7 linked regions of the Homo sapiens genome follow. The protein of the gene in region 3 interacts with the protein of the main gene of each other region in a biochemical or structural test. Each region holds a gene or a part of one and is shown on either strand. Other genes may lie near its edges.

Region 1 (3,338 bases), on a different chromosome or scaffold from region 3:
GAGGGTGGAAGGCACCACAATGTGGATGACTCATCAACATGGAAAACTCTTAAAAACATACTGCCAAGTGAGACAAGAGAGTACACGCTGTACAGTTCCATTCACAGAAAGTCCAAAAACAGGTAAAACGAAACTGCAGTGTTCAAGGATACGTGCAAGGGTGGTAACTATCCAGTGAGGCAAAGCTTTTCTTTGTTATGGTGATGGCCAAAGAAGTCAGGAGAGTGACTACCCCTGGGGCAGTGAGGCATTTGGGAGCAGGAAGGGACATCTGAGGAGGAAGTTCTAGGGTATCAGCAATCTCCTATTTGATGATCTAGATGGCAGTGACATGGATATTTACTCTAGTATTATTTGCTATGTCATGCATTTGTTTCATGTACTTTGAACGTTATGTCTTAGCACTTTTTTTTTTTTTTGAGACGGAGTCTTGCTCTGTCGCCCAGGCTGGAGTGCAGTGGCGTGATCTCGTTTCACTGCAACCTCCACCCCCCAGGGTTCAAGTGATTCTCCTGTCTCAGCCACCTCACTAGCTGGGACTACAGGCATGTGCCACCATGCCCACTTAATTTTTCTATTTTTAGTAGAGACACGGTTTCACCACATTGGTCAGGCTGGTCTCGAACTCCTCACCTCAGGTGATCCACCCATCTGGGCCTCCCAAAGTGCTGGGTTTACAGGCTCGAGCCACCACGCCCGGCTGTCTTAGTACTTATTAAAATTCCAAAACAAAACATGAAAGAGAAAAAAAAAGAGGACTGAGGACCGGCAACCTGCTTGGCAACTCACCCAGGCTTGTGCACAATGTCCCTCAGCACCCGCACAGCGTCATCGTTGCTCATGTTCTCAAAGTTCATGTCATTCACCTGGAAGCGACGGCAAGTGGGTCAGAGACACGGTGGGAGAGGCTGAGGGCCCCCGTGCAGGGCAGCTCAGTGGCCCTACCCCAGCACACCTGCAAAAGCATGTCCCCTGGCTCAATGCGCCCGTCGGCCGCCACAGCCCCACCCTTCATGATGGAGCCAATGTAGATGCCTCCGTCTCCCCGCTCATTGCTCTGGCCAACAATGGAGATACCCAGGAAGTTGTACTTCTCTGTGGAGAGAGGCCATGTGAAAAGAGGAGCCCCTGCCACAGGACGCCCGGAACCCTAGAGACCAGGCCCTCCCCACGCCCTAGCCACAGGCTCTCCCCATACCCATGTTTAGCGTGACTGTGATGATATTGAGAGACATTGTGGAATCTGTGACGCTGCTGAAGGATGACGTCTGTGGTGGGAAAAGGAGCCAGAGTGCCCTTCAATAACCCAGGGTCAACCCTGGGGTGCTGCCGGTGTCCTGGCACCGCCCAAACCAAAGCCCATGCCCCACCTTCTCCCAGCACCAGCCTTCCTGTAGGAACCCCTCACCCTCTCCAGGCGGGGTGGCCTCTGCTTCCTTCGCCGCCGGTGGCGCTTAAGGAGGCGGGAGGCACTGCTCTGCTCCGTGGAGCTGCTGAACCTACCAGGAGGTTGGGAAGGAGAGCAAACGTAGGCCAAAGTGGTCATGGGGCCAAGAGAAAGAACAAGAGGATTGACTGGAAGACGAGACGGGGCTGGGTGCGCTGGGGAGAGCTGTGCGGAGCCACACCTGCTCATGGTGTCCTCCTCGTCCGAGTCCCCCAGGCTGGTACTCTCCAGCTCGCTGGTCATGAGGGTAGAGGAGCTCTCGTATCCGGCCAGGTGGCGCTCCAGCCTTGAGGGGCCACCAGTCCTGTGGCCCCCAGCTACATATGGACAGGAAGCTCAAGAACCAAGCTTCCCCCTGCTCACCCCACCAAGGCTGGGGTCTGGCCCAGCCCTTCCCGGCCCCCAGGCCTGCCCCTCACCGCCATGCTCACTGCTGTCTCTCCTGCGAGGCCGCTCCCGCCTCAGTGACACTACTGACTCGGTTTCTGTCTCAGGCTCCAGATTCTCATGGCTGCTGGACACATTAGGGCTGGACAGGCAGAGATGGTTTCCAACCCACATCAGGAGAACAGGGCTCCGGATCCTAGGCGTCCCCTACCAAAGGCCTGGGTTCCCTCCTCACCTCCCTCCCCTGCAGTCAAGAATCTGAAGGACTCACTGGAAGGATGGAGGCCTTGAGTCCCCAATGCCGCTGGTCCTCTCGGGTGGCAAAGGAGGTAAAGGTGGGGCTGGAGGCGCCAGTTCTGCCCGAGGCTCATGGACTGGAGGGGCCATCTCGGGTTGGGGATTATCTGAGGACACCAGCTAGAAGGGTGCAAATGATAAACAGTGGCTCACTTGGGAGTCAGGGTGTGACAGGTGGCAGTAAGTGAAAGAATGAGAAAGGGTCTCAGAGAGCTGGAGAAGAGCAAAAAAACCTAGCAAGTATTAGAGACTCCAGAAGGAGAAGGCTGAGGGCCTCTCGCCGGCTCTCCAAACAGACAGGAGGTAAAGAGCCAGGGCTGCTAACGCGCGGCCTGGGGAGGATACAGAAACAGACTGAGGCTTGAGGGAGCTTGGCAATGCTGAGGGGGCCTGGTCCTCGGTGTCAGAACCTCTTACCCAGGATACCACCCTTCCGTTGAAGCAGGGGAGGCGGGCGTTGTCATCTGAAATTTCTTCCTTCACCACCCTGCCAAGCGACAAGGTAGAGGTCAGTGAGCTGGACCAACCATCCCCACCCCGACCCCCATCAAACTTTCTCCCAATCTTCACCTGGCTCCAGGATGTTGACTTTCTCCTGCCCTGTTCAGGTCTTCTCTTACATTGAAAGAACTCACTCCGACACCTAAGAAATCTCCAAACTCAATCCCCTTTCCTTATTTCTCCTCTCCCTAACGCACCCTCAGGGGCACAGTGCTGCTCCAAAGACTTCCTTGAGTCTGACTCAAACCTCTTAGTCCAGTTTCAAAAGCAATCCCGCACGCTGATGCGGCTGCCTGAGATACCTATCTAATGAGACTGGCTGGTGGCCTCCTCTCAACCCCACCCCTGTTCCTTACAAACCTTCCAAAAAGGTCAGGCACGGTGGCTCACACCTGTAATCCCAGCACTTTGGGAGGCTGAGGCGGGCGGATCACCTGAGGTCAGGAGTTCAAGACCAGCCTGGCCAGCATGGTGAAACCCCATCTCTACTAAAATACAAAAATTAGCCGGGCATGATGGTGGGTGTCTATAATCCCAGCTACTCAGGAGGCTGAGATGGGAGAGTCGCTTGAACCCGGGAGACAGTGGTTGCAGTAAGTCGAGATCGCGCCACTGCATTCCAGCCTGGGCGGCTCAAAAAAAAAAAAAAAAAAAACCTTCCAAAAAAGGCTTTGGTCCTCATCAAAGCCTCTACTCTTATACTTTC
Region 2 (3,500 bases), on a different chromosome or scaffold from region 3:
GATCAGAAGATCATGGCTGGACAATCAGGTCCAGCAGAAGCTGGTCACAAGGGAGGACAGACGCAGCAGAAGTACACACAGCACAAGACCCAGGTGGGCAGGGGTTGGGGGAGACAGTGGCAGGCCACCTGCACCTCCAGCCCCTCTTCTCCCTGCAGGGCTGAGTCAGGGCCAAAGATGGCCACCTCCCTGCCTGGTCCTGGTGGGGGTCACGTGAGGAAAAGGTGACTCAGACTCTGACACCTGCTGAGGGAGCAGCCAGGCAGGAGGAGTACCGGTGTGCCGAGCGCCCAGGGTCAGCCATACCTGCCTCACCTGTGGTCTCCCCAGCAGGCCCCACCTGTGGCCCAGGCCTTCTGCCTGCCACCCAGAGCAGCAGGATTCCTCTCACAATCCTTGGCTCAGCCGCAGCCCCACGTGGCTCTCCACATGCATCCTGCCTACCCCTCGGCAGCTGCCAGGCCCAGTCCCCCATCCCTGAGGGTGGCCCTTGCTTCCTGCTGCACGCCCTCTACCCCCGGGCGCTGCCAGGGCCTGTCCTCAGCCTCCATTCCAGCCCAGCCTTGCCACCCCAACCTCGGTCCATTTTTTGTTTTTTTGTTGTTGTTGTTGTTGTTGTTGTTTTTGAGACACGGTCTCACTCCCGCCGCCCAGGCTAGTGTGCAGTGGCACGATCTCGGCTCACTGCAGCCTTAACCTCCTGTGTTCAAGCGATCCACCCATCTCAGCCCCGCAAGTAGCTAGGACTACAGGCACGTGCCACCACACCTGGGTTTTGTTTTTTGTTTTTTGTTTTTCTTATAGAGACAGGGTTTTGCCATGCTGTCCAGGCTGGTCTCAAACTCCTAAGCTCAAGCAATCCACCTGCCTCAGCCTCCCAAAGTGTTGGGATTACAGGCATGAGCCACGGTACCCAGCTCTGCTCTGATTTTGAATCCATGCTCTGTTAGCCAGGCCCTCCTCGGGCCAGACCCCATACTGTGTTCATGCTGAAAATCCGGAACACCAGTAATCCTCCTGTGGACCAGCAGACAGCCCAACAGAAGCACATGGGCATGAGCAGGCACAGAGGAGGGTGGGCGTGGCTGAAGCAAGGAGAGGAGGCCTGGGGACTGGAAATGCTGCCGTGCTTTTAACACTCCTGACAGACTGCACATCCCCACCTTGAATCCCGCAAATGCTGGGACCCAGCTGGGTGCAGTGGCTCACACCTGTAATCCCAGCACTGTGGGAGGCCAAGGCGGGTGGATCACTTGAGGTCAGGAGTTCAAGACCAGCCTGGCTGACATGGTGAAACCCCATCTCTACTAAAAATACAAAAAAGGCCGGGCACGGTGGCTCATGCCTGTAATCCCAGCACTTCGGGAGGCCAAGGCAGGCAGATCACCTGAGGTCAGGAGTTCCAGACCAGCCTGACCGACATGGAGAAACCCCATCTCTACTAGAAATACGAAATTAGCTGGGCATGGTGGCACATGCCTGTAATCCCAGCTACCAGGGAGGCTGAGGCAGGAGAATCGCTTGAACCTGGGAGGCGGAGGTTGCAGTGAGCCGAGATCGCGCCACTGCACTCCAGCCTGAGCAACAAGAGTGAAACTCCATCTCAAAAAAAAAATACAAAAATTAGCCAGGCATGGTGGCACACGCCTGTAATCCCAGCTACTTGGGAGGCTGAGGCATGAGGATCACTTAAACCCAGGAGGCAGAGGTTGCAGTGAGCTGAGATCGCACAAATGCACTTTAGCCTGGGTGACAGAGCGAGACTTCATCTCAAAAAGAAAAAAAAAAGAAAAATGCTGGAACCCACAGAGGATGCCGGAAAGGGGGCAGTGGTCCCCAGACTAACCCGTATGCCAGCCAAGCACCCTCAAGTGATCCCAGCTGGTGGCACAGAACTGAAGATTAACCCTGCCCTCACTGTCCAGATTCCTAACCCACAACGCTGTGAGATATAATAAAATGGTTGTGTTAACTGTTTTAAGAATGGTGTCTGACTTGAGGTGACCGCGACTTTTACGTAGCAGTAGGTAACTGGAACAGATGTCCAACCTCACTAGAAATTACAGAAAACCCGGCCGGGCGCAGTGGCTCAGCCTGTAATCCCAGCACTGTGGGAGGCCGAGGCGGGCAGATCACGAGGTCAGGAGATCGAGATCATCCTGGCTGACACGGTGAAACCCCCGTCTCTACTAAAAATACAAAAAATTAGCCGGGTGTGGTGGCGGGCGCCTGTAGTCCCAGCTACTCAGGAGGCTGAGGCAGGAGAATGGCGTGAACCCGGAAGGTGGAGCTTGCAGGGAAAGCCCAAATGACCTACCATTTCAATCCATCAGATTGACAAATATTAAATGTCTCGACACAGCTGGGCGCAGTGGCTCACGCCTGTAATCCCAACACTTTGGGGGGCCAAGGCGAGCGGATTGCTTGAGGCCAGAAGTGTGACAGCAGCCTAGGTAACACGGTGAAACCCCATCTCTACCAAAACTACCAAAGATTAGCTGGGTGTGGTGGCGCGTGCCCCTGGTCCCAGTCACTCAGGAGGCTGTGGTGGGAGCCCCGGAGGAAGGAGTTGCAGTGAGCCAAGATTGTACCACTGCACTCCAGTCTGGGTGACAAAGTGAGACCTCATCTCAAATAAAATCAATGTCTTGGGGCCAGGCACAGTGGCTCACGCCTGTAATCCCAGCACTTTAAGAGGCTGAGGCGGGCGGATCACCTGAGGTTCGGAGTTCCAGGCCCGCCTGACCAACACGGAGAAACCCCGTCTCTACTAAAAATACAAAATTAGCCAGGCCTGGTGGCGCGTGCCTGTAGTCCCAGCTACTCGGGAGTCTGAGGCAGAAGAATCACTTGAACCAGGGAGGCAGAGGTTGCGGTGAGCAGCTGAGATTGCACCACTGCACTCCAGCCTGGGTAACAAGAGCAACGTAAATAAATAAATAAATAAATAAATGTCTCAACACACGTTGGAGGGAGGTGGAACACAAACACCCCTTATTCCAGTCAAACTGCAGACAAGTACGAGGTTCTGGCAAAGAGTGGGACAGGTCTACTGTAATTTTACCTGTGCATACCAGGAGACCCAGAATTCCGCTTAGAATCTCATGGTATTTAACCGGGAGCCTCACACGCCACTGCTCCTACTAGCAAAGCATCGCGAAAACCGTCATGGGACATTGACTCCACAAAAACAAACAGTATGCAACTGACCCTTGGGTCATCCTAAGGGTCCAGGTTCTGTGATCTTCCCAACGCCCATGCAGATGGCCCCGTTTTGCACATACACCAAGGCTCTTTGAGATGACTCTGCCAGAGTAAGCAGCCTCCAACCACTGTCCAAAGTGAAACCTGTCCCGAGCTGCCCCACACACTCCTCAGTAAGAACACGGGAGGCAAGGGGCTCCCGCACAGCTGCCAGCTGCTTCCCTGCCAAAACACCTGGAGCTGCTCCTCTGCCTCTCAGCAACTGCTTCAGGTCAGGCTGGGTGAATTTCCCAGGG
Region 3 (2,229 bases):
TAGCAATATAAACCTGTCTCTGAGCCTCCCTCTTGTCTGTTTCCTCATGAACTGTGTTTTGGGCACAGAGAGTCTTGCACTCCTAATTTCTTTCGGTTAGTCCAGCACAGAACAGGAATGGGAAGGGAAGAAGGGGAGAAGGTGAGTGGGGGACCATATTTCTACAGTTTTTCTGACTGCTACTGGGTAGATAAATCAAGAGCTCTGCCTGTAGGTCTTGGATATCTATAATTGGGTATGAAAAGTGGAAGACCCTGATGAATTCTCCAAAACAAAGCTGGTTTTGTCTCTTGTAGGGTTCTGTGTAGCCTCACCTAGTGCATCGTAATTTCTTACTTGAGGGAGACCAGCACCCTGAAAACGAACTGGAAAGCTGCCTTCTTCAGTCAAATCTGCTAAATCATACCTACAATGAATGATATTCAATAACTTCTGTCATGGCAAAATTTATACAGCAGTGGTACCATTTGTAATTCTAATACTTAACTCTTTTATGGTATACGCAGTCCTTTTTGAAGGCCAGTTTCCCTCTATCACATAACCTGTCACATACATTAGAATTTTTTTTTTAATTCTTTAGGCTTGAAAATTACCAGAGTGTTCATAATAAGGATTTGGAAAAGGAGTCTATTCAACCAAGCAGATCTCTGCCTTTCTTTCGTCTTTACTATGAATTCTGAATAAAATGGAGAACACACTCTCAATATGTAGAAAAATAAAATTTTGGCAAAACAATAATTACTGTTTTTCTGTATGTACTTAGCAGTGAAATATTTATAGGCAACAGATTTTAAGAAGTCAGTTCCATGGCTATTAAAAAATGTTTAAGTTAATGAAATTTACAGTGCATATTAAAAGCATGATACAAATGGAAATTTAAAATTTTGTATTAGGAAGCCCAGTTTGCTAAAAGTAGCATTAATATCATTCACATCAGATTTTAATTTGTTACACATTTTTGTAGTTCAGCAAAGGCCCCTATGATGAAAAACAATTAAAAAGTGTTATGACAAAAATAATTATCTGTGTAAAAAGGGGGAGACCCAAAAGATTTTTCATATGGTTATTTAATTCAGTTAAATAGAACTGTTATGAATTTGAGAGGAATGAAGATATTCAAACACTAACAGAAAATCATTAGCCTTATATTAGAGCATTCAAATGCTTATGTAACTCTTCAATCCATCTGGCTTCATAAAAACCAAAATTTTGAACACAAAAAAGTGGCAGAGTTTACATTACCTTTTGTATGTTCCTAAGTATGAAATTGCATCAATTTATTATGAATTAAATTTGAAAAGCATCACAGATTTAAAAACAAAGTACAAAAGAGCCTGATTCTTTTTAATTCCACAAATACCTAGCATCTCAAAGTAACATGTAAACAAACTTCTATGCTGCTCAATGAATCCTTCCAATTTCGATAATAAACTAAATAGTATTGGATCTAGTATATGACTTTCATGTGTAAGTTATGGTTCTATCCATTACTTTAACAATATTACTGATGTAACAGAGAAAAATTTTCAACTATTGTATTTATTTAAAACAAACTGACAAGTTCAAGCACCTGTCTTCAGAAAAGCCAGCAGCATTTTTTTTTTTTTAACATACTCAAAGTAAGATTTGGCCTAAGCCCTTAATACCTTTCTGAACAGCCATGCAACTAAACACCCTCAGGAGATGTTACATAAGGGAGAGAAGAACATGGAGCAATTTGCACTTTTTCCCCTAGATAATATTAACAAGGTAAAGCAAATCCAGATCTTTATGAATGAATGGCTGTCATGTTTAATACACTTGGAGCTCTATAAAACTAGAGCCACTATCATATATGTTTATATAGATATATATGTATTTTTAATAAAGTCTCTCACTTGCTTCAAAATTTAAGGATGATCTTTTTCCTGGTCAGTCATTTCAAGGGAACAATAAATAAAGTAGAAAAGGATGAACTGTTTTGCATATTTCTGTGGAAGAACGGAAAACATACTTTGAGAGGTTCGGAAAATTCACTGTACAGAATGAACAGCTTATATACACTATCTGTGCAATTTTTCTTGGCTGGGGTATTTAAATGCAAGAGCTCCTCCAAAATAAGAAGCCACATTCATTCTTGTCCAAATCCCTCTGTCTCTTCTATTGCAAAAAGAAGTTTTTCCTTTAGTTGTTCATAACTCTTATATGGTGGTAGATCCAAGCGATTAAAACTGAACAGAAACAAAAACA
Region 4 (3,500 bases), on a different chromosome or scaffold from region 3:
TTAGGAGGAAAGAGACATTCACTAAATACATTTCTGTTACCTTAACAGTTAAAAGTTTGTTTTAACTATTCATTTTTTCCTTCTCCAAAATGAGTGATTCTGCTTTCTATAGCCCAGTAGAAACCATATGCATATTGTAAATCAGAAAAAAAAAATCAAGGTATAGTATCCAAAAAGAGGGCTGTGATGACTCGATGCAGATTTATTTAGAAAGGGAGGCTTATATTCAATTTTTCATAAGTACTGATATGAGATCCCTTTTCCTAGAGACTTCTCTGAATGGATAGGAGAGCCCTGAGCTATTAGATTGTGGCCCCTGAATCACTCTGTGTCTTTACCCCTGAAAAGTTTGAGGGTGAACTTCACTAGAAGGAATCTCACAAACCCTTCTCCTGCTCTACCATACTTTTTCAGCTCGCCTCACTTCTTATAGCTTAGAAAAAAACCAACTCCAATGTCTCCAATATTCTTGGCCAAGGACCACCATCTGCTTTTGGTTTAATGGTGAAGTTAGACTCTAGATAGGCTAATTAGTCAGTGATGCAATATTCTCCTAGACCAGTTTATGTTTGAATAATATTATTGAAATTATCCTGTTTGTCAACATCAACAATTTGAAGGATGTTTAACTTATATCCCAAATGAGTTTAAAGGAGATATCTTACAGTACAACTGATTATATGACAGCTATTCACAAAAGAGACTATGCAATCTGATTGTTGGAACGCATAGAAAAATTAAAATGTCATTTTAATTAAATCTCCTAGATCATAGAATTTTGAAGTTGAGGATGATATTCCATTTATCTGAGTGTTCCCCACAAAACATGGTGCTTTTAGTAGACACAGTTAGATAAAGGAGGTTTGGATGGATGGATGGATGGATTTACTTGTTCAGAATAGGAAGAAACACAAATTTCTTTGGATTTTTTTCTCTAAACTTTCTCTGCCTTAATAGATATTTTTACTCTAATTAATTAATCTTATACTATTGATTCTAATTTGGTCCCAATATTTTAACATTAGAAATATTTTTTAAAAATCTAAATGACTTGGGGTAGAATTTTCAGAAAAGGGCGACTTATATCTAAGTTTCCTAATTATTGATGTGAGGCCCCCTTTACTTGGAGACTCATCTCTGTCATTTGTTCTCATCCTTCATCTCATCAGGTATTCTTTCAAAATGATACATAATAATGATGGTTCTAGTACTGGATGCAGTATATGAAGAAAGGGAATTATATAAAGTATCAAAAGATTAGTGTGTTGGATAATAAAATAATTGCATGAGAAGATGTTTCACATTTATTTACAACTTTTGACCCAAGGACCTATCCCTAAGCTTTGAATGTTTGTGTTTTTCTTTTTATTATACCAATTTATGTGCAAAGAGTTACCTTCTACTTCATATAAATAGTCTCATACTAGAAATTCCATGGAATTCAAGCCAATCCTTACTCGCATTCCTTCTTACGAAGTATACGAACTGAACAAATTTCCTTGCGTAGCAAAGGTGACATATGAAGATAATGTGCTGGCCTCTCATCATAGTCCCTGGATACCGTTGCAAGGTTCCTAATTTGCTTGGTTTGGCATTTCCACAGTCTTTATCTTAGCTCTTTTTTTAAAAATGTACTTAAATTAGTTAATTTGCTGGTTGCTTCCATATTGCTTGATTCAAAATCCAAAATGGAGTTCAGAAAAAGAACAAATAAAATTACAGCTTAAGTGCAAACTACATTTCTGAGTATCTGCCAGGTAGACATACCCAATCCAGTGTGTTTCTTCCAGTTCAATGGATTCCCTCATTGGGCCACCCCTGAAAGTATCAGTAGTTTTCCTGAACCACAGAGAACTGTCTCTTAGTTTCCCTTCTACTCTTCAGACAACCAACGGCCTATCAAGTAGTGTCATTTATGGAGAAAAAAAAATGTTGAAAAATGTAAAGGATGAGGGTGAAGATAATTTGATAGCATGAAAAATATTAGCCTCCCTTTCTTATTTTAAAGATTGTATACTTAAAGTAGTGGCCATTTCACTATATTAAAATATTTCTTGCTTAAATTCTGTGAAGAAGCTTTGATGTAAACATCTTTGCAATTAGAAATTAAAGCCAAAAATAGGGGAGCAAATATAAAGGAATCGGTCAGAGCAAAACAAAATGAAAAAAACCAAAAAGTGTTGAAAACATAATTACTAGTTATAACTTTAATGGAGATTTTTAAATTATGAAAGTTGAGTTGGCCATTCTTACTTGCTAGGACAGAAACTGCTGGGGAAAGAAACTGGATTCTCAATTTCAGACACCATCATATGTTATAGAAAATGTTATTCTTTTGTTCTAATGGAAACTTTATTATGATTTCCAGGGATGCTAAATATGCACACATCAGTTCCTGCAGATAGGAACAGATAGCATGGGTGTTTCAACCATCTGCTTTAAAAAAAAAAAAAAAAAAGAAGAGGAAGAAAGAAACAAAGAAAGAAAAAGAAAAAGAAAAAAAGTGACAGCTAGTTTGATAGTAGGCAGCATTGCCTTACATTTTCTGGTCCTTCTCTAGCTGTTTCATTCTCCTGACCAACCCATGCAGAGAAATGAAGAAACATTGTGGTTCCTCCTATCTTTCTCTTTCAGTCTTTCCCTCTAATGTTCAAGTTAGGTAAGCACATAACTATCATTGCATCTCTGTATCTTCCACTGGGAAGTGTCAAAACTACTGGCCTTGGGGTAGAAGGAAGACCACCAGAGAAAGAGAGGGGGGTGGGGAAATTGGAGCAGGTGTGTCTCTCCACCTAAAAAACCACAACTGAGCTTACACCACAGTATTCCGGTGTCTGTAAGGTGGAGGCGGCAGCACAGTGCCTGGCTTCAGGGAGAACTCAGAGAGGTATTCAGGATTCTCTGCCACAATAGGCCGGATCCGCCCATTCTGTTTATAAAAATATTTTGTGCTGTACTCCTGCAGGTAGTCTGGGTGCTGAAGGGTGCTCCGAGGTGGCAGGCTGTGGTTCCAGTAGTCAGGGTTGTCAAACGCTTTCTTGGCCTTCTCTGGCATTGACAGTATGTTGTTCTTCAGGTACTCAGCTTTTCCCAAGGTGTTGGCAAAGGTGTTGAGGTACAGTGGCTCATTCACATACTCATCCTCGGCCTTGGGTGGACCATTGGATGCATTGTGATATTCGGGATTATCCAATGCTTGAAGGTCTCCATTTTTTCTCCGAGAAACAAAAGGGTTCTCCTCCACTGGATTCAGGTATTCTAAAGGAATAAAAAAATATCAGCTAACCTCTAGTTTCTGGAAAATATTAATCAGACCAAGGTTATACATAATGGTTAGCTTCTTTGTCTAGAACAAAAAAACCCACAGATTTGTTTTCATGATTTCTCACAACAAGTATTTGTGGATCACCATTGTCTTATGAAAAAAAGAGTAAGTGGGTCAAAAATGTTTATAATAAAACAAGAAGCCAACGAGGCCAGAATCAGAATTTCTATCTCCT
Region 5 (3,337 bases), on a different chromosome or scaffold from region 3:
TGCTGTAAGTTAAAGCTCTCTTCATTAACACTAACTTTCTCTTATTTTACTTTATTTTACTTTTTGAGACAGAGTTTCAAGTGATTCTCCCACCTCAGCCTCCCAAGTGGTTGGGATTACAGGCGCGTGCCACCATGCCTGGCTAATTTTCGTATTTTCAGTAGAGATGAGGTTTCACCATGTTGGCCAGGTTGGTCTCGAACTCCTGGCCTCAAGTGATCCCCCGACCTCAGCCTCCCAAAGTGCTGGGATTACAGGCATAAGCCACTGTGCTCGGCCTGTGAAAATTCTTAATTACTACATAACATTCTCTTGCTAGTAGCCAGTAATAGAGCTATGAAAAAAAATTAAACATTCTCTTGCATTAAGCGAAGTGTTTCAATATATTAAATGTCTGACTTTCTAAAGTGCAGGAGAAAAGGCAAATTTTTCAAAAGCAATCTGAAAATAAAACTTTGAAATGTACAAATTAATTAAAACTTACTCCCGGATCTTTTTTTCTGATCCATCTCTTCCAGGGTCATAAACTCCTTTAGGCAGATGTTGTATAAGACCTATTCTTTGAGCTATCCTAATTTGTTCCTCTTCAGTCAGCTGAGTTGCTAGCCGAGTCTGGCTAGGTGTTGGGTGGTAGACTGGAACTGGAACTTGTTCCTAAAATATTAAAATATAGAGGAAAAAGATTATTTTTTAAAAACCTTTCGAGGGCTTATTTTTTGGTCAGAGATAGAAGGGAAAGGGAGCCCTGGGAGGGGTAGGAAGCTGGGCTAGTGTTTGGCTGTATGACTGTGTTTCACCCTGCCTTAACTTCAGCTACTAGAATAAAACATACACACACCAAAACATTCTCATTCTGCCTAAAGGATATAAACACAGACTTCACTGAACTGGCATGGAATGTTAAATGAACTATTTCCACATGATAAGAGACCAGCCTGGACAACATAGCAAGACCTCATCTCTAAAAATAATTTTTAAAACTTTTTAAATGGACTGGACTATGGCAAAAATAAATCTAAAAGTTATCTAAGACTAACTTTCCCATTTCATAGGACCAAGCTTGCCTACAGTCACTAATTGACAATACTGAAATTAGAATTCTGCTGCTCCTAATCCAACTGATTTTTTACACAACAAAACAATTCAAAGGAATCGTGTGTATAACCCCCACCTTTTTTTGAGATAGGGTCTCCCTCTGTTGCCCAGGCTTAAGTGCAGTGGCACAAACACAACTTACTGTAAACTCAACCCCCTGGGCTCAAGCAATCCTCCAACCTCAGCCTCCTGAGTAGTGGGGCCACAGGGTTGAGCCATGGTGCCTGGCCTATAATAATATTTAAAACTGAGCAACTCTGATGGAATGAAGCTGGGATGGAGTGTGGCCTAGAAGGGATGAGGCTCCCCATCCCCAAGCCCTCACCTTGGTTACCTTTGCAGAATCCTCAGAATCAACAGAGCAGTCTGAAAAACACTACTATCTCAGAAGATGAGATTTTCAGTCTGAAGAATTAAATTATAAGATTTCAGTCTCAGCTCGGCTACTTACTGTGATTGCTTGGACCAAGTCTCTTAATGTCTTTGAATAAAGCAGATAACAGTACCCACTTTAAAGAGTTGATATAATCATGAGATAACTAAGAGCTTTGTAAATGCCAATATTTGTAAATTATTCTAACATCTCCCCAACGTCATGATTCTCCCCATCATGATTCTCTGCTTTGCAGACTTTAAGCTAAGTGCTACTGTCCTTGGCTTTGGTCCTGGCTTTCTGGCTTCTCTTTGAATACTACAAACTCTTGGACTCTGTTGTGATCTCTGCCAGCTCTGAGTTCTTCAACCCTTGAATTACCATTTCCAGTCTAAATTACCTTCCTGAATCTTAGCCTCAGTCCTAGTTGACCAGTTTTGATGAGCTGTCATCCACACGCAAACTGGGAACAAATTGGTTTAAGACTAAGATAATATAAAGGGTCTCTTAAATCCTTGAACCTAACAAACAAAAATAACTAAATTGTTTTAGAGAAAATAAACTCCAACTATGGGTTTTTCAGAGGCTAGATTTCTTCAGTCTTGTGGTTCACATACGTGTAGAGAACACAGAAAGCAGAACAGAAAAGGAAAGTTCTACTTTACGGGGAAACATTAATAAACATTAAAGAAGAAAATAAAAACTATATTTTAATTCACGTTATGAGTGTATTTTCTCCTTTGGTATTTTTTTGTTAAAACAAAGGAACCCTCTCTATATCTTTTAGATATTTAAAATGATTGAACAATCTAATTTCAGTTTACATGGTTCAGAAAACCATAGAGGAAAGGAAATGACTAAGACCTCCTGATATTTTAAAGATGAATGTGGCCTCACCCTTCTTACCACACATGCCTAATTTTAAATTTTAATTCCCATGATACTTGTTTTAAAATGGCTTGATATCTGAGTTATCAATTGTTTCATAACTAGACAGCCACTGATTTTCTAGGCAGCAAAATGGAATCCTGATTCAATTGTTGGCTAACAGACACTGAGTGAGTAGAAGATTAGACAGGGGTATAAAAACAACAATTTTAAAAGATGTGATGGCTGGGCATGGTAGCTCATGCGTGTAATCCCAGAACTTTGAAAGGCCGAGGCAGGCGTATCACCTGAGGTCAGGAGTTCGAGACCAGCCTGGCCAACATGGTAAAACACCATCTCTACTAAAAATACTAAAATTAGCTGGGCGTGGTGGTGCACGCCTGTAATCCCAGCTACTCAGTAAGCTGAGGCAAGAGAACTGCTTTAACCCGGGAGGCAGAGGTTGCAGTGAGCCAAGATCTTGCCACTGTACTCTAGCCTGGGCAACAGAGAGAGACTCCATCTTAACAACAAAAAAAGATATGGATTTGGGGGTGGTTCCCACCATTCCCTATCTGCGAACACTATATGGTTTATGTTCAACACCTGCTTCCCCTCTGAGAATCAGGAATTTTGTCATATGCTAGGCAGTGGGTGCCTAATCAGTACCTGGGGCACTGAGTCTCCAAATGAGCTTCTCTGGCAGAAAACCTTTCATATATGTTGAAGGAATTAAGCATGTCCTGTGTGACTCCACTAGGAGATAACTCTTGGAAGCTTGTGCTTAGTTCCCTTTAGACCAAAGCACCTTTCCCCTTAGCTGATTTTGCTTTGATTCTTTGCTGTAACAAATCATAGATGTGAGTAAGATTATATACTAAGTCCTAAGAGCCCTCCTATTGAATCACCAAACCTGGGGACTGTTTTGAGGACCTCCAACGCCAGTGCTAGGTTGTGCTCCCACTTTATATTTGCAAAGCTACTGTGTTTCGTCCCCAGCTG
Region 6 (3,500 bases), on a different chromosome or scaffold from region 3:
CTGATACCAAAGGCATGTATACTGCTTCAGATAAATGCAAAAAGCTTATAGTATCAGAGGAAATTTTAAAAGAATACATATTTGCGCCAGGCGCGGTGGGTCACGTCTGTAATCCCAGCACTTTGGGAGGCTGAGGTGGGCATATAACTGGAGCCCAGGAATTCCACACCAACCTGGGCAACATGGCGAAACCCCATCTCTACTAAAGATACAAAAATTAGCTGGGCTTGGTGGCGCATGCCCAGCTACTTGGGAGGCTGAGGCGGGAGGACTGCGTGAGCCCCCAAGGTTGAGGATGCAGTGAGCTGTGAAGCGCCACTGCCCTCCAGCCTGGGTGACAGAGTGAGACCCTGTCTCAAAACAAAAAACAAAAAAAGAATACAAAATTTGTAGTGTCTGTTACATTTCAGCAATAGGGGGAATACAGATTTTGTGGGAAGGGAAGGGGGAGGAGACAGCACCTTAGTTTTCCTACAACATAAATGTAACAAAGTTATCTTCTACTGTATTGCACCTTAGTCCAAAAGTAAAACAACTAAATGAAAATTTAAATAAATCAGACTGAAAAAGCCCAAAGAGTAAGAGGAATACCTTATAAATGTGACTACCCACCTAAAAATTCTTGAACTACTTTGTTTTGCATAGGATTTTATGGGACTAACCAAATGTTCCATGAACCATGAGGTGAAGACTGCGATTTCATGATAGCACATTGTTTTACAATTCTGATTAGAAATCCTTCAGAAATATTTCTGTATCAAGCTTGTAATGAGCCTAACATTTCAGTCCCCTCCAAATGATATATTAAAACAACTTAATGTACCAGCAAGAGAGGCATTCATAAGGTCACCTTATATCACATGCTACAGACCTTTTCCATCACAAATTATCAGCTTATATAAGATGTGCTGAGTAGTGATTGGTAAGTTAAAAACAAAGTTCTTAGTTTAATGTATCAATTTTCTCATGGCACAGAGGTCCATAACCTACAGCCTGTGATAGGTTTCAATATGTCCAAAATCCCTTGAAACTGCATGCAACATTGTATGTGTATGTGTGGTTTTTTTTTCTAGGAAGAGTCCACAGCTTCCTTCAGATTCTCAAAAGAACCACTAACCCCAAAAGACGCACGATAACACAGTAGTGGGTTTTCAGGCTGAGCTCTGAAAGGACCACCTGTAGAAAGGTGGGAAGTGTGGGCTAATAAGTGTTCTTTGCCCTAACTCTCCAATTCAACTGCAACAGCTCTGCCTTTAATTTTACTACATATACGGTTTCAATTAGCTTTTATGCGAAGAAAGCTAAAAGTATGAAAATCACTAAAATTATGCCTCCAATCTACAAATAGTAACTTTTGATAAAAACAATCCCTTATCAGTGGAGCTTAAGAAAAGGAAATAAAACACAACACAAATTTTACTATGGTCAAAATGGAGCCTTTTTCCCCTTCCTAAAAGATAAGCTACATGTATTTTGGTATGAAACCTTAATCTTCCTTAGAACCTAAGCGTTATACATAACAGGCATGTTGAACGCATTATTGAACCTTAAATAAATTAGGAGGACTTGAATTTTCTACTAAGACCACTCTGTAAACTTTCCTAATTATTAATGGCCATCTTAAGAGTTAATTTTTTCACCAATTAATCTGCGCTTAGGTAAAATATTGCCAGATAGCCAGATTTTCCTTTGCCAATAACAATCTGTATATGCAGCACTGTTCTGAAAGAGGAAACAGGTAACATTGATGATATAATCAAAATAGTTACTATACAGGAAAAGTATATGAAAATTAAAATAATTATCTGCTTAGGATGGTGAGAAATATTTTAGCTTTTAGTATTGAACATTTCGATTTATGGCAGCTTTGTTCCCTTTTAAAATTGGAAGCAGCATCAAAAATACCAATATGGAAAAAAAGCTAGTAGTGCTTTGGCTTCTTTTAAAGCCAGTAATTCTTGAGAAATAAATGCAAGAAGATTAAATAGATTAAATATTCCATGGGGCGGGGGGTGGGGGGGAAGATAAATGCATTATTTTTCCTTCTGACAAACATATTAATATTTTTTCAACCCTGTATTCCTTAGTTTCAGGATGTGAATTATACAGATTATCATTAGCCTAGGAACACTCACCAACACGATGGCTTAATTTCTCTAGCTTATTTTCTACCAAAAACAAGGTTATGAGGGGAAAAAAGAGCTCTGTAAAATAGGGGGTATGTTTCATATTTGGTTAAAGCAAGATAAAACTAAAACTGTCTTTCAAAAAAATTTCAAAAACTCTTGTATTTTAAAATTATTTAGCATATATACAAATAGATACCAGGTTTCTCCTTTTAAACAAAGCACTACTTATTTTAAGTACTTTAAGTACCAAGAACTGACTATAATATTCAGTTCATAATTTACTTTCCTTATAACAATTTTTTTCTAAATACTGATTTAAACGGCTGGAATAAATTAACATTTTAAAAGGATTTCCCATAATTTAGGAAAATAAAATATTGTACACAGAGCACACATATATAGCTCTGTCATATTTGCATAATTTTACTCTCAGAACCTCAAAACACCTCGCATTTCAGGCCCTTTTACAAATCCTCATTACATTTATTTACTAGTGTGTTAAACATATACTAGATCGCGATTTTTAATCTCTGAGCCTGTGTTTTGATCATCTTCATCCGACTGCTGCTCTGAGCCTTGTGAATTAATGTATTCATATTCAATAGGCTTCGGATAATTATATGGGTAGCCATTGTCATCAAAAAACCTTCGGAAGGTAAATTCATAGAATGCATGTTCAGGATGCTTTCCATTTTTATACCATCCATTGAGAGTGTCATTTACATTTTCTTCCTCGTTATCATCACTCCATAATTTATCAGGATCAACAGGATCAAAATTTGATGTATCTGTTGGGTGTGTGATTTTAGGAATGTATGAAGCAGACTGCTGTCTCAGGTCACTGGAGAAGTCAATTGTTTTAAAAAATGGATGAGCTTTTATTTCATCAGCACCATTCTTGCCTAAGCGATCTTCGGGTCCTCGGCAAAGTTTAATAATAAGATCAGAAGCTTCAGGACTGAGTTTAGCTTGTGGTGGAATGTGAAGAGATGTTTGCCAGTTGATAACCTTTAAAGATTTTTTAAAATTAGGGGGAAGAGATAAATTAGAAAAATAAAGATTTCCTTCAAGTTTTATACCAAAAGTCTCACTGGGCTATTTTTGTATTTTAAATAAATTACATGATATTTTGCTGGAAAATAATTTTTTCTCCTATCCCATCCTCTCCAAGCAACTTCTACTCACATTATAAGACTCACTGTCAGTTTTAATCTCCCCTAGTAAACCTTTTGGCCTATGGTAGAAGTGACTACTTCTACTCTGCCTCCCCTGTACCATATATTTATTTCTATCATATTTCTAATAGCTTGTGGTACCTATTTATGTTTATGTCCTACTGAAATATATCCATTAAGGCTAGGGATTATGTTT
Region 7 (3,500 bases), on a different chromosome or scaffold from region 3:
TAGGTCACCTCCATCTACGGTTGTCAGGGCACTGAGATAAATGAACTCAATAATGGCACCTTCCATTTAGGCGAGTTTATAAATCAACCTACAAAGTTGGGGAGAAAGAACACGTAGGCAGACCTGGAATCCTTAAGTAAGCTTCTCTCTTTCCACAAAAGCAGTTCACAGATCTGTAAATATGTCCTGTAAGGCCAATCACAAAACTCCTCTGGTTTTAAGAGCAGAAAATTCTTTACAACTAAGGGCCTGTATTTTTTCCTTCATCTGCTACCTATACCTCTCATAAGTACAACCTCTATTCATCTTTCTTGTCCTCTTACTCAGCCCTAGGCCTAGTTAAAAAAAAAAAGGAATATATTAATTTTTTTCTTAATATTGAACTTCCAAGAGACCACCAATATAAGCAGCAACTCCAAACTCTTGAACAACAAAACTTTATAAACTTTCTGTATCTGTGGTAACAATTCCATCAATGAGAAAAACAAGCTATTAAAGAAATAATTATTTTTGAAAAGTAGAGGGCCACCTATGTAAAGAGACTGCTTTAAAAAAAAAAAATCCAGTATTTGGCAGCTATAGCTCCTAATACAAGAGTACAGAGAATATTTCTTTCTTTCTCAACACAATTTTTTTTTTTTTTTGGAAATGAAAAAGCAGGAAGACTTAGCTTTCTTTCTCAGTCAATTATCAATTGAAAAGAGAGAGCCAAATACCTGTATAATTCAGTATGTTACAAGGAGGCTAGAATATTTATTTTTAAAAGTCTCTAGTTCACCTAATTATATGCTAAATTTTTTTTAAATACATGTTAATAAAAACCACGTGTTTATGGAAAAATACACAATATCAACACCGAATGTATTTCAATTCTCCCCAAAATTAATCCATAAATGTAATGCAACCTACTAAAACTCCAACAGAGGGAGAGGGGACAAGATAAAAAAAATTTTAAGATGAAGTAGAAAATTATACACACATAAGATAGCCAAGAAAAATATTTATGGAAAAGCCGTTTAGCTAGTATTTAAAAATTATAGCACAACAGTCTGATACTTCTGTGTGAACTGACAGATAAATGGAAAAGCAGAGGAAATATTTCACCCATACTACAAGAATATGACAAAAATGGTACTTCAAAGTGGTTAAGAAGGATAATTCAAAATAAAAGGTATTGGAACAAATGGGAAATAATCTTGAAATATAAAATTATTTCACTACTTCACTCTCTAGAACAAAACAAACTGCAAATAAATCAAATAATTAAATGTTAAAATGAAATCATAAAAAGTATAAAAGTACTTACTAGGAGTAAACATGGGGGAAAATTTTTATGATCCTCAAGAAGGATTTTCTAAGGATTACATAAAACTCAATGACTTTTTTCACTTTTATGACTCAAAGTCATAAAAGAAAATGATAAATCTGACTACATAAAAATTTCTAAACAGAAAAACATACCATATGGTCAAAATACAAATAACAAATCAATAAAAAGTTTTCAAGACATATGACAAAAGGCTAGTTTCCTTACAATGCAGATTAAGTGAATCTACATACATGAGACCAAAAACCCAAAAGAATAGGCAAAAGCTGTGATCAGAAAAAATTTGACACCTAAGCCTATGAAAAATGACTCAAATTTAAAAGAACAATTTGCTAAACAATGTATTAGTTCACTAATATACTGTGTTGGTAAAGATATAAGGGAAAAGGTACCTTAACAGGTTGGTGGGAATAAAGGTTGGAACCATTCTTTGAATGACACTTTGGCATTAGCTACCAACATTTTAAATGCAAATATCCTTTGAAGCAGTAATTCTACTTGCACAGATTTATCCTACAACATATATAATGGCATGTATTCCCAAAGAAGTGTATACAAGAGTGTTCACAGAAATAGTATTTGTAAGAGAAAAAACTAAGTATCAACCTAAATAACCATCAATAAGGGACTGATTAAATAAAATATGGTACATCCCCAGAGTCCTCTGCATCTATTTTTGTGGAAAATAAAGTGAAAAGGATATACATGTATAAATAAATATTTATCCACAGATTATCTCTAAACAGATACTCAAGAAACTACTAACAGAGGGTGGATCTACAGAAGACAATTTGTGGAAATCTGGGTAACAGGTAGAAAGAGTTACTTTTCTGTGTATTCTTGTAGTACTGTTTGGAATTGTTACCTTGTATACATAAATAAATAAATGCTTTCGTAAGATTTGGGATTTTTATTGAGAGAAGATATTATAGTAATTCTAGAACTATACAGAATATGAAGATCAGCATCTTTCTCATTCAACAAACTGAGTGCCTATCACATCTAAGGCACTGCAATGCAGACACAATGCATACAGTCCTTTTCCTCAAAGAAAAAGGTCACAGCACCTTTCCTCAAGGAGTACACTGTCTGGTGGAGGAAAGAAATCAGTAACCATACCATTACCTTATATAGAATGATATATACTATGAAGAGGTAAGAACAGAATATTATGGAAACACGTGATGAAAGCAACTTAAAAATCAATGATCATCATTCCAAGAAACATAAATATCAATAGCTTAAATATGAAATTATCAACTCCTCCTTTGGGGTTAAAAAGGATGATGATGGCATTAGTCTGAGAAAATCTTAGCATCAGTAAAGCTGGGTCTCATCATTTTGCATACCTATGTCCTGCACTAGCTATCCACAAAGGTCACATTCATTCAAACACTACTGAGAACTATGGTTTTACCATTACAGTTCCCATCCCTAGTGCTGTCATCCTCAGAAGAACCTGATCCCTTTAGAAACAGGAACAAAAAGTCTCAAAGAATGTACCATAAGTATAGTATATCTGCAACATTTACTTCTATTTATTTAAGGGTTCCAGGGAAGAATCAAGAAATAGCCATTCAGTTTATACTTTTATCCTGGGCTAGCAAAGTACCTTAAAAAGGAACCATTAAATTGAGGCTTTGAATCAAGTTATTCTAATAAGTTGCTTGAAGGTATATTATGAAAATAAATGGCGGGGCACAGTGGCTCACACCTGTAATTTCAACACTTTCAGAAGTCGAGGTGGGAGAACTGCTTGAGCCCAGGAGTTCAAGACCAACCTGGCCAACATAGTAAGACCCCATCTTTAAAAAAATAAAAATAAGGCTGGGAGCAGTGGCTCACACCTGTAATCCCAGAATTGTGGGACACCGAGGCAGGTGGGTCACCTGAGGTCAGGAGTTCAAGACCAGCCTGGCCAACATGGTGAAACCCCGTCTCTACTAAGAATACAAAAATTAGCCAGGTGTGGTGGCACATGCCTGTGGTCCCAGCTACTCGGGAGGCTGAGGCAGGAGAATTGCTGGAACCTAGGAGGTGGAGGTTGCAGTGAGCCAAGATTGCGCCACTGCACTCCAGCCTGGGCTACAGAGCAAGACTCCACCTCAAAAATAAAATAAAATAAAAATAAAAATAAAAATATATTTAGGCTGGGTGTGGTGGCTCACGCCTG

What was found.
Region 1: the proteins of WWP1 (region 3) and DVL2 form a complex in vitro, tested with the Homo sapiens proteins (2 studies listed by BioGRID, with this or other methods).
Region 2: the proteins of WWP1 (region 3) and ARRDC1 form a complex in vitro, tested with the Homo sapiens proteins (one study listed by BioGRID).
Region 4: the proteins of WWP1 (region 3) and ERBB4 form a complex in vitro, tested with the Homo sapiens proteins (one study listed by BioGRID).
Region 5: the proteins of WWP1 (region 3) and RNF11 form a complex in vitro, tested with the Homo sapiens proteins (one study listed by BioGRID).
Region 6: the proteins of WWP1 (region 3) and LATS1 interact in a test that uses a peptide from one of them, tested with the Homo sapiens proteins (one study listed by BioGRID).
Region 7: the proteins of WWP1 (region 3) and RTN4 form a complex in vitro, tested with the Homo sapiens proteins (one study listed by BioGRID).

Annotation. Positions count from the first base shown.
Region 1 is NC_000017.11:7,228,180-7,231,517, forward strand, and holds part of DVL2 (segment polarity protein dishevelled homolog DVL-2), read right to left. Parts: intron 3,016-3,338; exon of another isoform or gene 2,702-3,015; intron 2,619-2,701; coding exon 2,549-2,618; intron 2,252-2,548; coding exon 2,106-2,251; intron 1,977-2,105; coding exon 1,867-1,976; intron 1,765-1,866; coding exon 1,629-1,764; intron 1,500-1,628; coding exon 1,409-1,499; exon of another isoform or gene 1,371-1,408; intron 1,269-1,370; coding exon 1,199-1,268; intron 1,096-1,198; coding exon 956-1,095; intron 867-955; coding exon 790-866; intron 1-789.
Region 2 is NC_000009.12:137,608,686-137,612,185, reverse strand, and holds part of ARRDC1 (arrestin domain-containing protein 1), read right to left. Parts: intron 1-3,500. UniProt on the Homo sapiens protein: Functions as an adapter recruiting ubiquitin-protein ligases to their specific substrates. Through an ubiquitination-dependent mechanism plays for instance a role in the incorporation of SLC11A2 into extracellular vesicles.
Region 3 is NC_000008.11:86,466,775-86,469,003, reverse strand, and holds the end of WWP1 (NEDD4-like E3 ubiquitin-protein ligase WWP1), read right to left. Parts: intron 2,211-2,229; coding exon 2,111-2,210; 3' UTR 501-2,110; downstream 1-500. Other genes in the region: RMDN1 (regulator of microtubule dynamics protein 1), read left to right, coding at 297-328. UniProt on the Homo sapiens protein: E3 ubiquitin-protein ligase which accepts ubiquitin from an E2 ubiquitin-conjugating enzyme in the form of a thioester and then directly transfers the ubiquitin to targeted substrates.
Region 4 is NC_000002.12:211,380,803-211,384,302, forward strand, and holds part of ERBB4 (receptor tyrosine-protein kinase erbB-4 isoform JM-a/CYT-1 precursor), read right to left. Parts: intron 3,259-3,500; coding exon 2,813-3,258; 3' UTR 1-2,812. UniProt on the Homo sapiens protein: Tyrosine-protein kinase that plays an essential role as cell surface receptor for neuregulins and EGF family members and regulates development of the heart, the central nervous system and the mammary gland, gene transcription, cell proliferation, differentiation, migration and apoptosis.
Region 5 is NC_000001.11:51,267,273-51,270,609, reverse strand, and holds part of RNF11 (RING finger protein 11), read right to left. Parts: intron 655-3,337; coding exon 485-654; intron 1-484. UniProt on the Homo sapiens protein: Essential component of a ubiquitin-editing protein complex, comprising also TNFAIP3, ITCH and TAX1BP1, that ensures the transient nature of inflammatory signaling pathways. Promotes the association of TNFAIP3 to RIPK1 after TNF stimulation.
Region 6 is NC_000006.12:149,659,102-149,662,601, forward strand, and holds part of LATS1 (serine/threonine-protein kinase LATS1), read right to left. Parts: intron 3,138-3,500; coding exon 2,628-3,137; 3' UTR 1-2,627. UniProt on the Homo sapiens protein: Negative regulator of YAP1 in the Hippo signaling pathway that plays a pivotal role in organ size control and tumor suppression by restricting proliferation and promoting apoptosis.
Region 7 is NC_000002.12:55,040,452-55,043,951, forward strand, and holds part of RTN4 (reticulon-4), read right to left. Parts: intron 1-3,500. UniProt on the Homo sapiens protein: Required to induce the formation and stabilization of endoplasmic reticulum (ER) tubules. They regulate membrane morphogenesis in the ER by promoting tubular ER production.